Linked DNA regions of Homo sapiens. The protein of the gene in region 2 interacts with the protein of the main gene of each other region in a pairwise test. Each region holds a gene or a part of one and is shown on either strand. Other genes may lie near its edges. The genes, in order: INPP5K and GOLT1B.

Evidence for each region.
Region 1: the proteins of GOLT1B (region 2) and INPP5K interact in binary tests that used the Homo sapiens proteins (3 or more experiments, as listed by UniProt).

The regions. Positions count from the first base shown.
Region 1 is NC_000017.11:1,505,167-1,515,445, forward strand, and holds part of INPP5K (inositol polyphosphate 5-phosphatase K), read right to left. Parts: exon of another isoform or gene 10,261-10,279; intron 8,814-10,260; coding exon 8,706-8,813; intron 8,396-8,705; coding exon 8,287-8,395; intron 4,634-8,286; coding exon 4,517-4,633; intron 4,188-4,516; coding exon 4,012-4,187; intron 3,061-4,011; coding exon 2,949-3,060; intron 1,924-2,948; coding exon 1,814-1,923; intron 1-1,813. UniProt on the Homo sapiens protein: Inositol 5-phosphatase which acts on inositol 1,4,5-trisphosphate, inositol 1,3,4,5-tetrakisphosphate, phosphatidylinositol 4,5-bisphosphate and phosphatidylinositol 3,4,5-trisphosphate.
Region 2 is NC_000012.12:21,497,180-21,505,356, reverse strand, and holds the start of GOLT1B (vesicle transport protein GOT1B), read right to left. Parts: upstream 3,569-8,177; 5' UTR 3,434-3,568; coding exon 3,409-3,433; intron 1-3,408. Other genes in the region: RECQL (ATP-dependent DNA helicase Q1), read left to right, coding at 5,787-5,802. UniProt on the Homo sapiens protein: May be involved in fusion of ER-derived transport vesicles with the Golgi complex.

The DNA.
Region 1 (10,279 bases), on a different chromosome or scaffold from region 2:
CCCAGCTGGAGTGCAGTGAGTCAATCTCAGCTCACTGCAGCCTTTAACTCCTGGGCTCAAGTGATCCTCCTGCCTCAGCTTTCCTGAGTAGCTGGGACTACAGGCACATGCCACTACACCCAGCTAATTTTTAAATTTTCGTAGAGACGGGGTCTAACTATGTTGCCCAGGCAGGTCTTGAACTCCTGGCTTCAAGCACCCCCTCCCCACCCAAGGCCCTACCCTGTCCTTACAGCTCCCACCAGGACTCTTGTTTCCAATGGATGGCTGCAGAGACTGGCAGTCTCCCTGCAGCTGTTGATCTGGGCCGGCCATCCTGCTGCAGCCTGGCCTCTTACCTCCTTTCCTGCCTGCTCTGTTGCCCAGGGCGGGTCCCTTCCCCAGCGTCCACTGCCTCCTCTTCTGTGGACGGCCCTGCTCACGACCCTACCCTGTCTTGCTCCACACTGCTGAATCGGCTCACTCTTTCCCCCTTTCCTTGACAAGGATATTTTGGCTTTGCTGTAACACTTCCAGAACCAAGCTTGAGTTCTACCTCTTGTCTTGGTCTGGCTGTGGAGATATTTCTTCCCTGGCTAAATCCCAAAGCCCTGGGCTGCCCTGCCGGTACCTCCCGCCTCCCTCACAGAGACACTCCAGCTAGGAGGAATGAACAAGCTGCTCCCGCTGGAACAAAGACCCTCATGACATGTAAGGGGCTCTTCTTTTCTTCAAAGAGATTAGGTTCCTTGCCCCAAAATGAGTCAGGGACATGTTGCCAGTGGTTCTTTCTCAGGTTTTGGTGGTTATTTGGCCCCTTCTCAGCTTCTTAGAAAGGTTTTTAGTAAATCTATCACGGGAAGACATGAATCTATTTATTTTATTATTATTTTTTTGAGACGGAGTCTCGCTCTGTCACCCAGGCTGGAGTGCAGCGGTGAGATCTCGGCTCACGGCAACCTCTGCCTCTTGGGTTCAAGCAATTCTCCTGCCTCAGCTTCCTGAGTAGCTGGGATTACAGGTGCGCGCTACCATGCCCAGCTAATTTTTGAATTTTTAGTAGAGATGGGGTTTTACCATGTTGGTCAGGCTGGTCTCAAACTCCTGACCTTCAGTGATCCACCTGCCTCGGCCCTCCCAAAGTGCTGGGATTACAGGTGTGAGCCACCGCGCCCAGCCGGCATGAATCGAAAAGTCACAATAGCCGTTCTCTCCCATGGTTACTGGGTGACGGCCTCCTTCAGTCCTCAGCCTCATGAGGTGTGTGCTCTTCTCATCCACACCTTATAGCTGACAAAATCAAGGCCTAAACGCTTTGGCTAAAATAAGACAGAGCCGTGCTTCTAACTACCAGACTCATGATCTCTACACTGATCCTGATGAAACTCTCTACCTACTACTTCACCTTCTCACACAAGACCTGACCCATTCACAGGCTGGGGCAGGCGTCCTTAATACCAGTAACTGGCTGGGCCAAGCTTTCTGCCCCGTTTGGGGACCAGAAGGTCTGGGGTTTCCCGAAGCTGAAGTGCAGTCCCTCCTAGGTCAGGAGGCAGCTGCTCCACCCTCTCCTCTGGTTCTATCTGTAACACCCCCACCCCCTACACACCTCTCCTGCCCTTGCTGGCACTGGCTTTCCTCCCACTCTCTCGAGATCTGGGACGGCTCCCCGAGTCAGCGCCTCATGAAGTGGACAGGAGGTGCCACTCTGGAGAGGGGATGACTAGACCAATTCCTGCCCCCCCTAACACTTCTATTCTGAGACAGTTCCCATGCCAGCAGGGTCAGTGTAACCTGACTTCCTAGACCTTCTGGCCCCCCACTCCCTCCTCACCTGGTGTCATAGTCGTTGGAGTTCCTATCAAACTTGTAGGTGGGCGGGAAGAGTAGGCGGCCCTCCTGGAACTCCCGGAGCAGCGGGTCATGTTTCTTGGCAATGCTGAGCTGCAGACAAAGTCATAGTCCCCGTCTCCCAGTAGTCTCGACCCAGTGGCCCAGTACCACACTCCATTCAAGGGATCAGCACATGCCGTCACAAATGGGGCAAGAGTCAAGCAATGCCACTCCAATTCCTCACTGCCCCAGTGACTACTCAGCAGCCCACTCCCACCAGAAAGCAGGCGAATCCTTTCGGAAACATTACCAAGGCCCAGGGGAGGCAGCTGTCTGCCGTTTCCCAGTCCTTAGACTGCAGGGACCCAACTTGGAATTCCATCTCTAGGGGAGATCACTAGCAGACATGTGTCAGAGGGGAACCTGGGGAAGCCAGGGTTCTCCAAAGGGGCACCTCACCCTCCAAGAGGGAAACGAGGCTGGGGATGGGAAAGACGACAGGGACACGATGGGCTGACGCATGATGGTACCTGGTGCAAAGCCCTTCTGGTTCCCTATTCTTCTTCTTTTTTTTTTTTTGAGATGGAGTTTTGCTTTTGTTGCCCAGGCTGGAGTGCAATGGCGCTATCTCTGCTCACTGCAACCTCTGCCTCCCGGGTTCAAGCGATTCCCCTACCTCAGCCTCCCGAGTAGCTGGGATTACAGGCACGTGCCACCACGCCCGGCGAATTTTTTTTTGTATTTTTAGTAGAGATGAGGTTTCTCCAAGTTGGTCAGGCTGGTCTCAAACCCCCGACCTCAGGTGATCCACCCACCTCGGCCTCCCAGAGTGCTGGAATTACAGGCATAAGCCACCGTGCCCGGCCCCTATTCTTCTTTTTTAAATAATTCATTTCATGCTTTGTATCTGACTCTCTATTCTAAAGCACATCCAGGGTCTGTTACCCTGGCTTTTCCATGTGAAGATCAGGCGTGGCTGCCTCACCCCTGGATGCGAAGCCCTGCTAGACAGCCTCCCCCACCAGACCTGGGCAAAAGAAAACAGCAGCGAGGGCATCTAGCAACACTCTGCACAGCTCACATGGCCCCCACCGTGGGCTCAGATCACCCCCTGGGACCCTCCCCTCACTGGATACCTGGTCCTTCTCCCACAGGCCACCGTAGCACCGATTTTTAATGGATTCCCGAACAAAGTGCAACCCAAAGTCCTCGATCCGAAAGTTCATGTCTCCAAACCAGATAATGAGGCTTCAGAAAAAAAGGAGGGCAGCCTGAGGATTTGTGATGAAGTCGGGGAAGGGAGATCACCAGGTGGCTCAGCCTGCTCAACCCAAGGGCTGCTGGGGCACAGAAAACCTGAGGGGCAAGTGAGACGCCAGGGCACGCGTGGGTCCTCTGGAACTGTTCTCATGGCTCCTAAACCACCATTCAAACCGGAGAGACCTACCAAAGAGCCTGCTCTGGCAAACACAGAGCAGGCTGTGGCCCTTCCTTCCTCTCCTTAACTGGTCACGAGGAAAGGCTGAGAAGCCCTCCTGGTGACCTCAGGAGCCACAAGGTCCTTGACCTGTTCCCAAGTGTTCAGGGTTTCTAAGCAAGACAGACGGGCTGGAGGAAGGGGACCCCAGGCAGGCAAAGCAAGGGGAGACAGCAGATGGGCACCAGGGAAGGGTCAGGGAGAGGGTGGGAGCCAGAACACTGACGACACTGGCTGGGGGATCCGTGATGGAGCAGAGGATGCTGGCTTGGGTTAGCGTGGGGCAGAGGGCGGGGAACAGTCTGCAGACCCAGGCTCACTCGTGGCGGTCAGCTGGGGCAGAGGGCGGGGAACAGTCTGCAGACCCAGGCTCACTCGTGGGGGTCAGCGTGGGGCAGAGGGCGGGGAACGGTCTGCAGACCCAGGCTCACTCGTGGCGGTCAGCGTGGGGCAGAGGGCGGGGAACGGTCTGCAGACCCAGGCTCACTCGTGGGGGTCAGCGTGGGGCAGAGGGCGGGGAACAGTCTGCAGACCCAGGCTCACTCGTGGCGGTCAGCGTGGGGCAGAGGGCGGGGAACAGTCTGCAGACCCAGGCTCACTCGTGGGGGTCAGCGTGGGGCAGAGGGCGGGGAGCGGTCTGCAGACCCAGGCTCACTCGTGGGGGTTAGTGGGGGTTAGCGTGGGGCAGAGGGCGGGGAACGGTCTGCCAGACCCAGGCTCACTCGTGGTCCAGGATGTTTGGGATGTCTCGCCCCTCACAATTCTGCATCTCCAGGATCCGGTCAAAGTGCTCCAGCCGCTGGTAATTGTTGGAAATGTGGGGAGGCAGGTGGCAGTTGATGATGCTGACATAGTAGCCATAAAGCTTCAGGCAGATGTTGACTCCACCTTTGTTCCCCTGGTAGAACAGGTCAACAGAAGAGTGGGAAGCTACTCGGGTTGGACACACCCCTCTTTCCACATCCTGGACCTGAGGGCAGACAGTCTCACTTCCTGCAGGGTCTCCTAGGGACAGTAACTAAGCTTCCCAGGGTGATCTCTCCATGCACAGAGCCCAGCTCGCCTCGCCTGGCCTCAGGGATAGCAAGCCCACTCTGAGGCAAAAGAACAAACATGCATTGGGCTGGACAGAGGACCAAGATTCCTTTCACTTCCTTTTTCTTTTGCCCAGCTCCACAGTTCCCAGCCCTTCCCAGCTCACGACTCAGACAATAGCTCAGTCCTTACCCAGTACCCAAACAGGCCAGTGGGGGTGGATTTAGTAGACAGAATCTGGATATAGGGCAAATGCTGATACTTGGCAAAGACCAGTAAGAGGATCCCCTGCATACGGACATGGGAGACCTGCAGGAGAGAGAGGGCAAAGGTCGCTCATTAAACCACACAGGCCAAGTGCATCCCTTCCAAGCTCCGTGCTAGGGACTCTAGAGAGCCCTCAGCTACATGCAGTGTCCTGCTCCAGGGTCTACGATATCCCAGTTTGAATCTCAGAGTTTCAAGCCTTTCCATTCTTCTTCTCAGCTGCCAAATGATACATTCTGGGGGCTGAGGTTTTCGATTCTGCGCCTAGGCGTGCGGGTGGCGGGAAGAGAAGATAAGCTAAGGATACTGGCTTTGAAGTTAGATCTGGGTTCAAACCCTGGCTCTGATTCTTAGTATTTGACATTGAGGCAGTTTCTCAGTGTATTTTCTCATTGATAAAGTAGGAATCCATCTCATAGATGCTGTGGGGATTATCTGAAAGCTATTATTTTTTGGTTTCAGCATTCTTTTTTTTTTGAGACGGAGTCTCGCTCTGTCGCCCAGGCTGGAGTGCAATGGCGTGGTCTCGGCTCACTGCAACCTCCACCTCCTGGGTTCAGGTGATTCTCCTGTCTCAGCTTCCCAAGTAGCTGGGATTACAGGCGCCCACCACCAGGTCTTGTATTTTTAGTAGAGATGGGGTTTCACCGTGTTGGCCAGGCTGGTCTTGAACTCTCGACCTCAGGTGATCTGCCTGCCTTGGCCTCTCAAAGTGCTGGGATTGTAGGCGTGAGCCACCGCGCCCGGCCAAGCATTCTTAAAAGGAAGGAACATAAGAGGTTTCCAGGATACTGGGAAATGCTCTTCTTTATCCCCTTCCCTTCCTCCCTCTCTCCTTGGAAATGTTCTTTATCCACCAGCTGCCCCCATTCCTCCCTTTTTACTTAGAGACAGGATTTCGCTCTGTCTACCAGGCTGGAGTGCAGTGGTGCAATCACGGCTCGCTGCAGCCTTGACATCCTGGGCTCAGGCAATCCTCCCACCTCAGCCTCCTGAGTAGCTAGGACCACAGGTGTGCACCAACATGCCCGGCTATTTTTGTTTGTTTTGTAGAGACAGGGTCTTGCCATATTGCCCAGGGTGGTCTTGAACTCCTGGGTTCAAGCAATCTCCCTGCCTCTATAATCCCAAAGTGCTGGGATTACAGGCATGAGCCACTGTACTCGGCCTGCTCTTTATCTAGATGTGGCTGATGGTAACATGGGTATATGCAAAAACCCATCAAAGTGTACACTGAATTTCTGCATGCTTTTCTGTGTACATTATAGCTCAGTGAAAAAAAAATAAGAAAATGCTCCCCCCAAACCCCATAACTATATACTGCGTGCAGCTGGGTGTCCATGAAGGCAACGCCCATGGAATGCCAGTGGGTAAGGACACATGTGCACAGGCTAGGGAGAATAGCTAACATCTGCTCAAGTGCCTCCTCTCTCATTTACTCCTGCCAAGCCTGTAAGGAATCACCGTCCCTGTTTTGTAGTTGAGGAACTAAGATTTAGGGAGGCTAAGGAACCAGTAGGGCTACCTGTATTGTAAAACAACATCAAAGGGCTAGGACTGCCAAGATCCCTACTATCTGCAGCTGCAAAAGGTGGGGTGGGAATGGGCCGCAGCCAGTAGCTCTCCCTCTCAGGTTCAGGCTGTCTACCACCGGCACCCGAGGAGCCGTTTCCGGAGAATGAAGTGTGGAGGCCAAGGAGGAAATCCCCGGGTGGGGAGCGTGTACTGGGGCCTTCCAGGAATTATGAAACTTGATCCTGCAGGCCACGAGCCCTGGCATAGCGGAGTCGAAGCAGGGGGAACCTCAAACCCAGCACTGGGTAAGGGAGGCATCAGAACTTCAGGTGGGCCAGAGGTTGCTACAGGTGTGTCCTCAAGCCTACTTCCTCCCCAGTCTTCTCTCTCCTACACCCAAGCACACGTGCCAACAGGGATGGAGGACGGGCTGGACCATGAGGGGCTGACTCCCAGGGTCAGGATTGAAGCAAGGGGACTGATAAAGACTCAGGAAAAGTTTCAGGCTTAATCCCCACCCACAAAGCAGCTTTAGGCCACTGGGTTCCACCACAAAGACACTGGCTCGCTTTGTGAAGGAGCAGCAGGGAAGTGGGGGCGGGGAGGGTGGGGTCGGGGCAGGACAGAGTTAGACTGGGAGAAAGGGTGGGGCTGTGGGAAAAGCAGGAGAGTTCTAGGGAAAGTTCTAGTTGGAGGAAATGAAGTAGGAGGAGCGAAGAAAGGACTAGCAGGAGGTGGCTGGGGGCCCTGGAGCAGTGGAAGGGGGTCAGCCCTTCTCAGTCTATAGCTGGCAAATGCACGGAGCTCACCCATCCACCCTGATTCTTGGCTGGGGAAAGAAGGGCATTCATTTTGGGTGCCAGGCCCTCAGTCTGGCCTCCCAATCTCAGTAGGCCACATGGGTAGAAAGGGCTGTGTCTCTGCCACAAGTTGAGCTAATTTCCTTGGCTCAATTCCATCCTACCAATCCTTTGCCAGTCAGCCGAGAAGCAAGGAGGCCTGCAGTCTTGGGAAGGGAGTGGCGGGTGAGAGAGAAGTGGTTGTGTCCTCTGTAAGGATCTAGCTCCCTATCTACAGAAGGAGGCCTCTGGGTTTGATGTGGAGGGAACCAAGGACTCGGGCTGGTGTTTTCTATCCTCAGCAGGAGTTCTAAACCTTAGATTCTTTCCTCCCCATTCTGCTCCCCCTCCAAAGGACACACAGCTCTTGCCTCAGTACCCCCAGGCAAACTAGGCTGACAGAATCCATTCTGAAGAACAAGAGTCATCCAGGAAGGGGAAAGAGGGAATTCTGGTATTTCTAAGCAGCTGTATACCAGGTGCTGTGAATGGGAGTGTGTTTCATTCCTCAGGTGTGCAGGGCAGAACCAAGGTGAAGGTGAAGATCTGGCAACCCAGGGCCTTCCTGTGGACTCTCCTACTGTCTAAAGACACCCCAGAGTATACTGGTCTCTCAGACTAAGAAAGCCGCCCAAAGTACCCACCACACCTGACTCCCCTCTCCTAACCTCTGGACCCCCAGAATCTGAAGTGCACGTCCCGTATGACCTGAGGATACCCTATGACACCAGCAGGCTAGCCACGCCTAAGATCTGTCAGTCTTAGAGTTCACCAGCATAGCAATAAGGTATTAGTAGTTAAGAACTTGGGTTATGAAGTTTGAGAGATCTGGATCCAAATCCCAGATAGCGCATGTGGCTTCTGAGCCATGGTTTTCTCTGTAAAATATCTCTATTTCAACAGACTTGTTAAGATTTTAAAATAACATATATACTATAAAGAGCTACTTATGATGTGTAACAACAAGTAAGCACTTGATAAATGACAGCCGTATGATTACACTCAGAGACTTCAGGATGGGCATTTGAGTAGAGACTGGTGGCTGGGGCAGCGGCCAGCACTGAGGTGATGACAAGCCCTGCTGCACCTCCCCTCAGAATCTTCCCAAGCTGAAACATATCCAGGTGTTAACCCAACCCCTGGAGACTCCAGCTCCCTCAGAAAGGCGAAGGCAGGCAGGGGCCCCGGGGTCCAGGTGGAAGGGAGGTTTAGCCCTTTAAACAAATGGGAAACAGCATGAAAGGCTGAGCAGGAGTAAGAGGAACACATCAGACCCAACAAGCAGGGGTCAGTGGAGATGTGAAAACACAGTTGTCAAGTGCCAATGAACTGGCAAGTTACCTTGATGAAGCTCAGAGGGGAAAGCACATCCATGAGGAAACTGCTCCACGAGTCATTAAAGGCAGCATCGGAAAGGAGGCTTATGATCCCAGAGTTCAATTCCTGCAAACTGACCATGCCAGCTCAGAGGCTTGGCCCCTGGCCTCCAGGCTACTTCCCCTGCCACAGATATTTGATACCATCTTCACGGACTTTCAAGGCCTGAGTTCTGATGGCCATGAGGTCTCCCTCCCCTGCCTGCTGATCTCCAGCCCCCTTTGCCGTTGCTGACCCGGGACCAGAGACATGGGACTGTCCCTGAAGCAGGCTGAAAGCTCCCAGCCTTCAGACTCCAGAGCGGAGGAGGGCAGGTCACAGTGCTTCCCACAGGGAAACCTGGGACTGGTCAGGGATGGGCGAAGGAGCCTGCAGATACCTACCCAATAACATATATGTCAAGATTGAGGTTCCGGTTGTTCAGCTGAAGCAGGTCACTGAGATCTAGAGGGGGCGCTGCCGAAGCCACGTTCCAAGTCACGACGTGTATGCTGCGGAAGGGATGCAGAGGGAAGTCATGGAGGAAGGAGGATAAGATAGTGCACGGGGTCGGCTGGGCGCAGAGGCTCACACGTTGTCATCACAGCACTTTGGGCGGCCGAGGTGGGCGGATCACCTGAGGTCGGGAGTTCGAGACAAGCCTGGCCAACATGGTGAAACCCCGTCTCTACTAAAAGTACAAAAATTAGCCCAGCATGGTGGCAGGCGCCTGTAATCCCAGCTACTCTGGAGGCTGAGGCAGGAGAATTGCTTGAACCCACGAGGCAGAGGTTGCAGTGAGCCGACATTGTGCCACTGCACTCCAGCCTGGGTGACAGAGTGAGACTCTGTCTCAAAAGAAAAAAAAAAAAGATAGTGCACGGGGTCTAGGCCTGCTTATGTCACTGCAATCTGCCACACTCATGATGGGAAATGTGGGTTTCTGTGCTGGTGGAGGGAATGGGGATACTGAACCATCAGCTGTCCGTCCTCACCTTTCTCTGCTGAAGCAAGAAATCCCCACCCCGGACTGGGTCCTCCATGCTGGCTCACAGCCACCCACACCCGGCAGCACTGGTGCTGCTGATATAGCAGAGTCGCCAAAGGGAGCCCAAGAATTTCAGGTCAGGCTAGCGAAGGGTTAGGGGGCTGAACTGCCAGGAATGTATTAATTCCATCAGCTCCTCCAGCCACCCACACCCCTCTGTCATCATCTATGGCTCAGTCGGCAACTTCTGATCCCTACTTCTCACCCCAAGTGTTCCTAAGACCACCAGGAAGATCCTAGGGATTCAGATTTCACCTTGTGATAGGCCTCAGCACTACAAGGGCAGAGGAATTTAAAAAATAAAAGAGATAACACCACCATATTCCCTTCCTCTCTCCTCCCTAGCAGATCCCTGGAGCAAGCCAATTTTGCCAAGCACTTCAGCGAGACTTTTTTTTTTTTTTTTTTTGAGACTGAGTCTCACTCTGTTGCCCAGGCTGGAGTGGACTGGGATGATCTCGGCTCATCGCAGCCTCCGCCTCCCAGGTTCCAGCAGTTCTCCTGCCTCAACCTCCCAAGTAGCTGGGATTACAGGTGTGTGCCACCACATCTGGCTAACTTTTGTATTTTTAGTAGAGACGGGGTTTCACCATGTTGGCCAGGCTGGTCCTGAACTCCTGATCTCTCAGGTGATCCGCCCGCCTCAGCCTCCCAAAGTGCTGGGATTACAGGCCTGAGCCACCGCGCCCGGCCAAGGAGTTTTTAAGTAACAGGTTTCTCGACATCTCTCTTAAGAGTCTATGCTCTATGTCTGCGTAGTATTCCGTGAAAAATAAAGAGTACTCTCTGGGGAAAAGTCATCAGTTGGATATTTTCCACCTCAGCTTACAAGTCTTAGGGAAGCAAGAAAACTAGATAAGGGGCCTCAATGACACTGGATCCAGTCAGAGGCTCAGGAAAGAGAGACCTACAGATGTCTTTAGTGGAACA
Region 2 (8,177 bases):
AATTCTATTAAATAACTATTTAGTAGTTAGGATTAAACATCGGCAGCTTTGTTAGTTGAAGATGACTAATTTCTATCATTTCACAAATAACCTTGATGATTACATAAAAATTCTGAGATGTTTTTAGAAAGGAAGGTATATGGAAAGACACCTACTATGTACTGAGAATTTACCACGAATTAGGCCTTATGAAGTGCTTCACATACCTTATATATAACTTAATACTTCCAATACTACTGGAATGCAGGTATAATTACATCTTTTTAAAGATGGAGGAAATTGAAGTTTAGAGAGTTGACTTAAGTTGCCTAAAGCCACACTTCTAGATAAGCATTCGAACCAAGGTCTTTTGAATCCAAAGCTCATGTGCTTAACCATTAATGCCATACCTCTTCCCACAGAATTTTTATTTTTTAGGTTAAAGGTGTTTGGTTACATGAAACTCAAGGACACTGGAGTATTCTGAACTTCTGGGGGACGCATCTTTTAGGGGATTCAAGTTTAATATTAGCTTGTTATCTAACATAGCCAAGTAGAACTATTAAAAATTAACTGCGGTCAAAAAGGCCAATCTCTGAGTATGGTTTACCGTGTTATGAAGTGTTTATACAAAAATTTTATAATTTCTTTAACAAAATTGTGAGGTAAAAGGTAGCACTGGTCCTATGGTTCATATGTGCAACCATGGACCTAGAGGTAATTCAGTAACTTGTTCTTGATCATAGAAGCAGCAAAAATGTGTGTGTGGGTGCTGGTGGTATGGAGGCAGGTACAACAGTCTGTGAAGTCAGCATTCAACCAGTCTTCTCACTCCACAGACAATGGTCCTACAACTACAACATGGGAACCAAAATATTCCACTACTTTATCCAGTACAGTCCAGCGGGAGACATTGCCCAAAACATCTTTGCCACAACTGGTACTGGCAATGACATTGCCAAGTAGCTCCTGATCCACACTGGTCAAAAGTCTCAAATTGGCCTCATTGTGCCTTTTTCTCACCTCCAGGATCCCCCTTTTCCCTATCCGTATGCATTCATAAGCCCTCTGGCTATCAAAAGCCTTGCATAGAGCTGCCTTCTTCCCATCGGAATCATATCCAGTAAAACAAACTTATCTTCCTTCACTCCTCCCACATGTTTAAAAAACTGTCCACAAGTTAAAAAAAATATAAAAACAATTTAATAAAACGAATCTGTCTAACATAAGGAGCATACTGTGGAAATTGTATAAGGAAAGACACGCATAATCTAATGGCAAACACTGTTAGCATTTTGATATCTTATTCACAATTTTTTAAAAGCAGCATTGTCTCTCTTACCATACCCTTTGAAAAACAGAAGTCAAGCAAGAATTCAATTGAACATTAACTGTACTGGAGAATGCAATTATCACACTAGGCTTTTAGACAATGTGATGAAATGAAGATTTAGAGGCAGCATGCCCCTCCTCCGCCCCTCTGAATAAGTCTTGTCTTTTTTGGGGCGGTGAGGAAAGTCCTAGAATGCCTTAAAATAATCATGAATTTCCATTTATTCTACTCTGAGCAGTGCTTGGCCACTCTCTAAAAACCAAAATCCCAGAATAATCCTGACAAATCACTTGAATGATGGCCAATCCCTGCAGTTAAACACACTCACACACAAACACAATTTGAAATCCAAAATGCATTTGGTTCACTAATCGTTTTATGTTTCAATCCACTGTTTCACCTAAAACATGTGACAAGTGAACAGCAAAGAGTAAAATTTCATTGCCCTCACAAAATTTAATGAAGTGAGGAGAATGCTTCTCAGGGAGAATGCCCATAGTCCAAACCCACTCTCTTGTTTTTATAAAGCAGGCACTCATCACTATATTAAGTCTTCAAAAATATAATTTCTATGCACAGATTATTCTCAGATCTCAAATAAAGTTTATATCAAGTCTTCTTAGGTGATAGTGGGGTACAGTGCAAAAGGTTTCTGAGCCAGCACACCTGGGATCAAGTTTTGTTTCTGTCACTTTTTCTTTGACCATGCACTCAATTTCTTTTGTGCCTCATTTAACTTATGAAAGGGGCATGCTTCTGTGAGCCTTACAGGGCTCTTATAAGAATTATGCATAATGATTCACATGAAAGCACATGGTTAACTGAAAGAAAATACCTTTATATAATTGCCAGTAATTATTATTACACTAGATTCCTATCCCCTCAAGACTACACTTTTATTTTCTTTGATCAGAACAGGCCAGGCCAATGGACCAAAGTGGGCGGCAACCTTGGGGCAGGTGGCCCCAAGAGGCAGCCCCAGTCCAGCCTCAGGAGGGAAGACAGCCTGATTGGGGGGTGGCAGTGTGTGTAGGAGGCCTTAGAAGCTCTGTGAAGTTGGTCTGCCATGACTTGAATCTCCACAAGAAGACTCCACTTTAAAATAGGGCATTTTAAATAAACTTCTATTTTTCACTTCAATTCACTGTTTAAGTCTTAAAATATTGAAAATCTGAGTTAACTGGAGTGAAATGAAAGGCGTGGCAGATAAAGCAAAGTGAGACAAAAAGAGACTCTTATGAACATCAAAATATGAGGTACAGAGCTTGGGCAGACATAAATACAAAAATTATTAATATTAACAAAAAGCAGTAGGAAAGTGGAAATATTATAATGAAAGAAAAGGAAACCGATATCAATGCTAGCTTTAGAGATGAAATAGGCCTGGAGAACTCTGTGGCAGGCAGAGAGCGATGCTAAAATAATAAAACAAGCCACAAAGCACAATATACAATACTAACGAAATATATCCTTTAATGGCACACAAAGTGGCTTTTCTCTACTGCTTGAAACTTTAGCAGGTAGAAAAGTGAGAATGTTTCAAGAGACTTCTAAAAGGTTGCTTACAGTACTGGCAAAAAGCGAATATTCAAAATGCCACATTTAAGCGTAAGGACATTTTCAAAAAGAGCCTACTGTAGGTGACATTTAAAATACCGCCTCCCAAATAACCAGCCAGCCAGGGACTTGTAGAGGACCCGAAGTGTGTCATGCGCATAAACGATCCCGAGAGTGGGCCGCGGGCACCACGCAAACTTTCTCTTGTGGCAAGCCCCTAGAACAAAGCGCCCATCTCACTGGGGATGAGGAGATCAGCGCGACCCTGGAATGAGACAGACTCTGGGCTAAAGCTCCCCTCCCAACATAGGGCGTCCCACCCTGCCCCACAGACTCTTCTCCCAGGTCAGGTCCGCCAGTCCAAGTCTAGCCCCGGCATCCCGAAGGCAGCCCCTTAGGGTCCCAGCAGCCCTAGCTCTGTCTCGCAGGCCACCGCCCCCAACCCAGAGCTTCATTCATTGACCCCGGCGGAGGGGCGAGACCCAGCCGGGCGATGGGTGTGCGCGGCTCGAGGCGGGGGCCCCGGAGCAGGTGCTTACTCTGCGTGTCCGTTAAGGAGATCATGGCTGCAGTGGTGGGGACAGCGGCGACAGCACCTCGGAAAGCCCAGGGTGGGAAGCTGAGTCGGGAGAAATGAAGCCGGGAAACAGCCCAGGCGAGAGCCGCCACGTCTTCCGGAAACACGCAGCCACCCTCACTGCCGCTTTAAGAGCGCTTCCTATTGGCGAAACCTGCTTCCAATCTCAACCAATAACTCGTAATGTTGTTCGGTGACGCGCATGGTGACCACACCCCTTGACCAATTAGAGAAGGGAGTTATCTGTGATTGGCTGAACGGACCGACCCGGAAGGGTGGATGCTCTCAGCTGGCTGGCGGGAAGATTTTACTCCCGAGTAGCGGAAAGATCTGCTCGAGGCCTGGGTGCTTTGGTGTCGGAGATCCGAGAGTCGGAGATCGGAGAGTCGGACACAGGACAGTCGGACACCGGACAGTCAAACACCGGAGAGTTAGACCGGGCTTCTCGGTGGGGAGAGGCTCTGGGATAACTACTGTTACAGCTTTGAAGGGTCAAGGGTGTGCGCTTTTTGTTTCATCCTTCCCTTTCCTGCTGCAGGGCGAGGCCGGTCTGTAGCGGATCACTTCCTTTCGCCCACACATTGGCGGAGGAGAAACCGGAAAGTTAATCACTGCCCTGCTCTGAGAACTCGGGCCTTTAGGGGCACGTTCGCCTGCTGACCGGTCTTCTGATCTCCCCATTCTTTTCCATGCAGGAGGATTGGCCACCAAAGCCTGTTTATTAGCAGCTGCCATTTGTTGGTAAATACTACTGGGGATGCTTCTTCCACCCCCTGCTTCACAGTAGCGGAAGGGCGGGCGTTATTAATATTAAATTACTATTGCCTCTAAATGCAGGTGGCGGGGAGAGAGAGGATTTAGCCTATGGTATCTCAGTGGCGTTTCCTCCAACATTGATGACTGGCTGTCACCCTGTAACATTCTTCCTGTGGATGCCTAGCTTATACTGCTGAGTGACAGACCTGCTGTAGTTCAATTTCTGGATACATTTTATGTTGAGATATCTTTTGCTGTTAAATCACATCATTTTGGGAAGGAGCAGTCTTTTAACCGCATAATCAAAGGAGTCATTTAAAATCGTGGGGGAGAATTGGATATAGACTGTGTCTTTTCATAAGGGTAGAAACAGCCCCTGCTACCTTAGCAAACCTGAGCCCTCACTACATCAAGGCATTTTCCTGGGCTGTGCGGATACAAAGGTGAAGAGATTGAACCCCAGCCCTGCTAAAGGACCTTACAGTCTATGGAAGGAATGTTACATTTTCATTACGTGAAGAGATGTTTGTATAGATCAAGAATTAGAAATCCTTGGTTTACTCTCCTATTTAGCCTTCTTTTAATGGTGTGGTTATTCCACATTCTTTAGCAAGGCAAAAAAGAGTCAGCCTATCTTTCCGGCCTAGTGGTGGCTTCAGAATTCTGTGTAGAAAGGGCGTAAGGTCAGCAGTCTAAGGATAGGTGTTGCAGAAGTGACTTTTGGAGAGCATCTTAGTTTTAGAAAATGTCCATATTAGAGAGATAGAAGAGGTGTTTTTAGGATTATGGGGAATTTAAAGTTTCTACTCTCCAGCCCCATTTTCCACTTGTCCATATGCATGCTTAGGTTTTAGTCATTCATAGATACTTAGAAATCATTACAAACCATTTTCCCCTCCCCCCACCTCTAACTTAGAAAATCTAGCTTTTCTGTAGAATACCAGTTTCTCTTTTAAGATTGGGCTTATATTGTAATTCTTTAACGCAAGGGCTCAATAAAATGTTAGATGATTAATTTTATTATTTATGTTGATGTATTTTGCTTAATCTGGTACATTTGAATCTATCCAACTTATTTATAAGATTGCCATCCTCCCAGTTTTACAGGTAGGGAAAGAGGCTTGGAGGAACAGCATATGCAACTTTGCCTAACATAGTAATTTAGTCACATAGCAATTGGTGCTAGACCTGTTGAATGTTTGCTGTTTTTTGTTACATCACTTTGTATCTTGTGGATGTTTGCTGAGTGTCATTGCTACTGTATTTGTCATGTATACGTTTATGTGACTTTGGACACTTCTCTGAAATCTAGAGAGTTAGTCGTTCTGAGTGTTGTGGGTTATTAAGCTGAAATATAGAGTTTTCCATAAAAAATTAGTGTCAAAAGAACCATGTGGTTCTTATTTGAAAGGTCACTGCAATATATAATTTACTTTCTAACATTTTCCGTGCTTAGGAATGACAGATTACTGTTGAGTGAACATCATTAATAGTACTATTTTTAAAAACTTGTTGTCACTGTTGTGCTTTTATTTTTAGAAAGAAATTTGGATTATTTTAGAAACAAATTTGGAAAGAAAAAGAATGGCGTCCGTTTCAGGTTAGTAGCAATGATTACATTTTCTTCTTCCTTCTGTTCTATTTCTGTTTGTATGATATTTGAAAAAGTTTGTTTTAAAAATTCTGATTATAGAAATGATTTTTTTCAGCTTTTTTATTGAAGTAAAATACACATTACAAACTTTGCCATGCTAACCATTATTAAGTGAATAATTCATTGGCATTAAATGCATTTAGACTGTTGTGCAGTCGTCACCACTATCCATCTCCAGAGCTTTTTCATCTATCCAGACTAAAATTCTATACTCATTAATCCGTAACTTTCCATTACTTCTCTTCTCCTAATCCCTGATAGCCACTATTCTACTTTCTGTTTCTTGACTATTTTAGGTACCTCATATAAATGGAATCATATAACATTTGTCCTTTTGTGTCTAATTTTTACCTTATTTGTGTCCAAATAAAGGCAATAGCGGAATCATGCTTTTGCCTATTTCTCTTACTGCTGAGTATACACTGACCCCTTCCCCAAAAGAGCAGGTACAAATTATCTTTATTCGTCTTTGGGTGATGCTCATTTCTCTTCTTGCTGAATCATGTCCTCCTTGGTAATACTGTAATGTATCGGAGAGGGACCAAATAAAAGGAAAAACCCAAACTTGGTTTATATACAAATTTTAAAAAGCAAGAAAGACTTATAGCTATTACAGTTCTTGTTTTTCAATTGGTCATGTGATCATAGTTTGTACTTTATAACTGCCTTCTTCAACTACCCATTCTGTATTCCTTGGTTCTCAGTTGGTAATGGGTCTTTGCTTGGTGGGGACTACTTGCCTTAGTAGTTTCCTATATTTGGTTATTATAGTTTTCAATTAACTTTAATCACAAGGTAAGGGAATACTGAGAGGTGCACTAGAGGATCTTCTGCTTTCCAGACATACTCTTCCTTATCCCTATAGTGTAGTAGCTATCTGATTTCCCCTTAATAGTCAGGATCACTTACCCCAGCAAGTATAGTAATCGCCTTCTTTGCCTGTTCATTTGTTGGCATGAGGAACCCAAAGTGGCCAAGTGGCAGTCAACTTCCAGTTTAATGGAACTATTGCTTTTTCCCCTGGTACAAGCATTTCTTTCTTGGTAACCAAGACCTCTAGGCCAGCAAGAGTCCGATGTTTCAAGGATGGGAAGCAAAAATTTCACTAGCGGATCACTAAGGGTAATAGAAGAGCCACTCCCATTTCCACCGCTGATTCCCGTGAATCGTGGCAATGGGAGAAACAGCACTATTCACTGATGTATAGCATGCCATATCCTGGAGGCTACTAGTCCAGCCCTTAAAGTGCTGATACCCAGCTGGCAGCATAATTGAGTCTGCAAAATGCCACTCCATTATTTTCTCAGGCTAGCTGCTGCAGGTTGTTGGTGAACATAGTTAGACCAGTTAATATCTTGAACATTAGCCTTCTGTTGTGCTTTGTTTGCTGTAAATGAGTTCTTTGGTCAGAAGTAATTTGGTGGGGAATACGATGACAATCAGTAGGAATTCCGTGAATTCCTGGATGGTGGACATGATAGAGCACTGCAGGCAGGTATGGTAAATTCATATCCGGAGTAAGCATCTGTATCAGTGAGAACAAAGTGCTGCCTCTTTCATTATAGACGGTTCCAATGCGGTCACTTTGCCATCAAGCATCTGTCTGTCCCCACAGAGAATGGTGCCTCCATTGGAACTCAAGGTTGGTATGAGCTGTTTGCAGGTTGAGCACTTAGCTCTGGATGTAGCCAGATGGGTCTTCGTGAGTGGCAGTCCATGTTGCAGAAGGCACTTTGTTCTTGACTTCGTTGTGCAAGGACAAGTGTGGTCAATGTCCAGGTCATCTTGTCTACCTGATTAATTATGATTATACTTTGTCGAAGTTGTTTTTAATGAGCATTCACATTGGACACAAATACCTTCACACTCTGACCATTCAGAGAGGTCTATACATATATCTCTTCCTCAGACCTCATTGCCACCAGTTTTCCTATTTGCTACCTTCCAAGTTGCTAACCATCCTGCCAATCATTAACCATTGCTTATAATAGTGTGGATGTATTCCTCTGGCAAAATGAATAACTATGTGGACTGCTTACTGCTGACTGGGAGAATTTTCCATCTCCAATGTTTTTCAGGATCACTCTGGAGAGATGCTAGAGTGCTTTAGTTGTTCACTTTCAGGTAGTGACAATATATCATGCAGAATCTTTTGTAAATTAGGTCTGCATTTTTTTTTCCCTTAGTAACACTGAATCCCACCATGAGGTTATAGCTACAGGTTGAGGAGGAGGAGGCAAAGGGGAGCATGGTGCATGAGCATTCAGACTTCTTGTTCACGCCTTCACTTAGAACCTGCTCACTTTGGCACATACCACTTC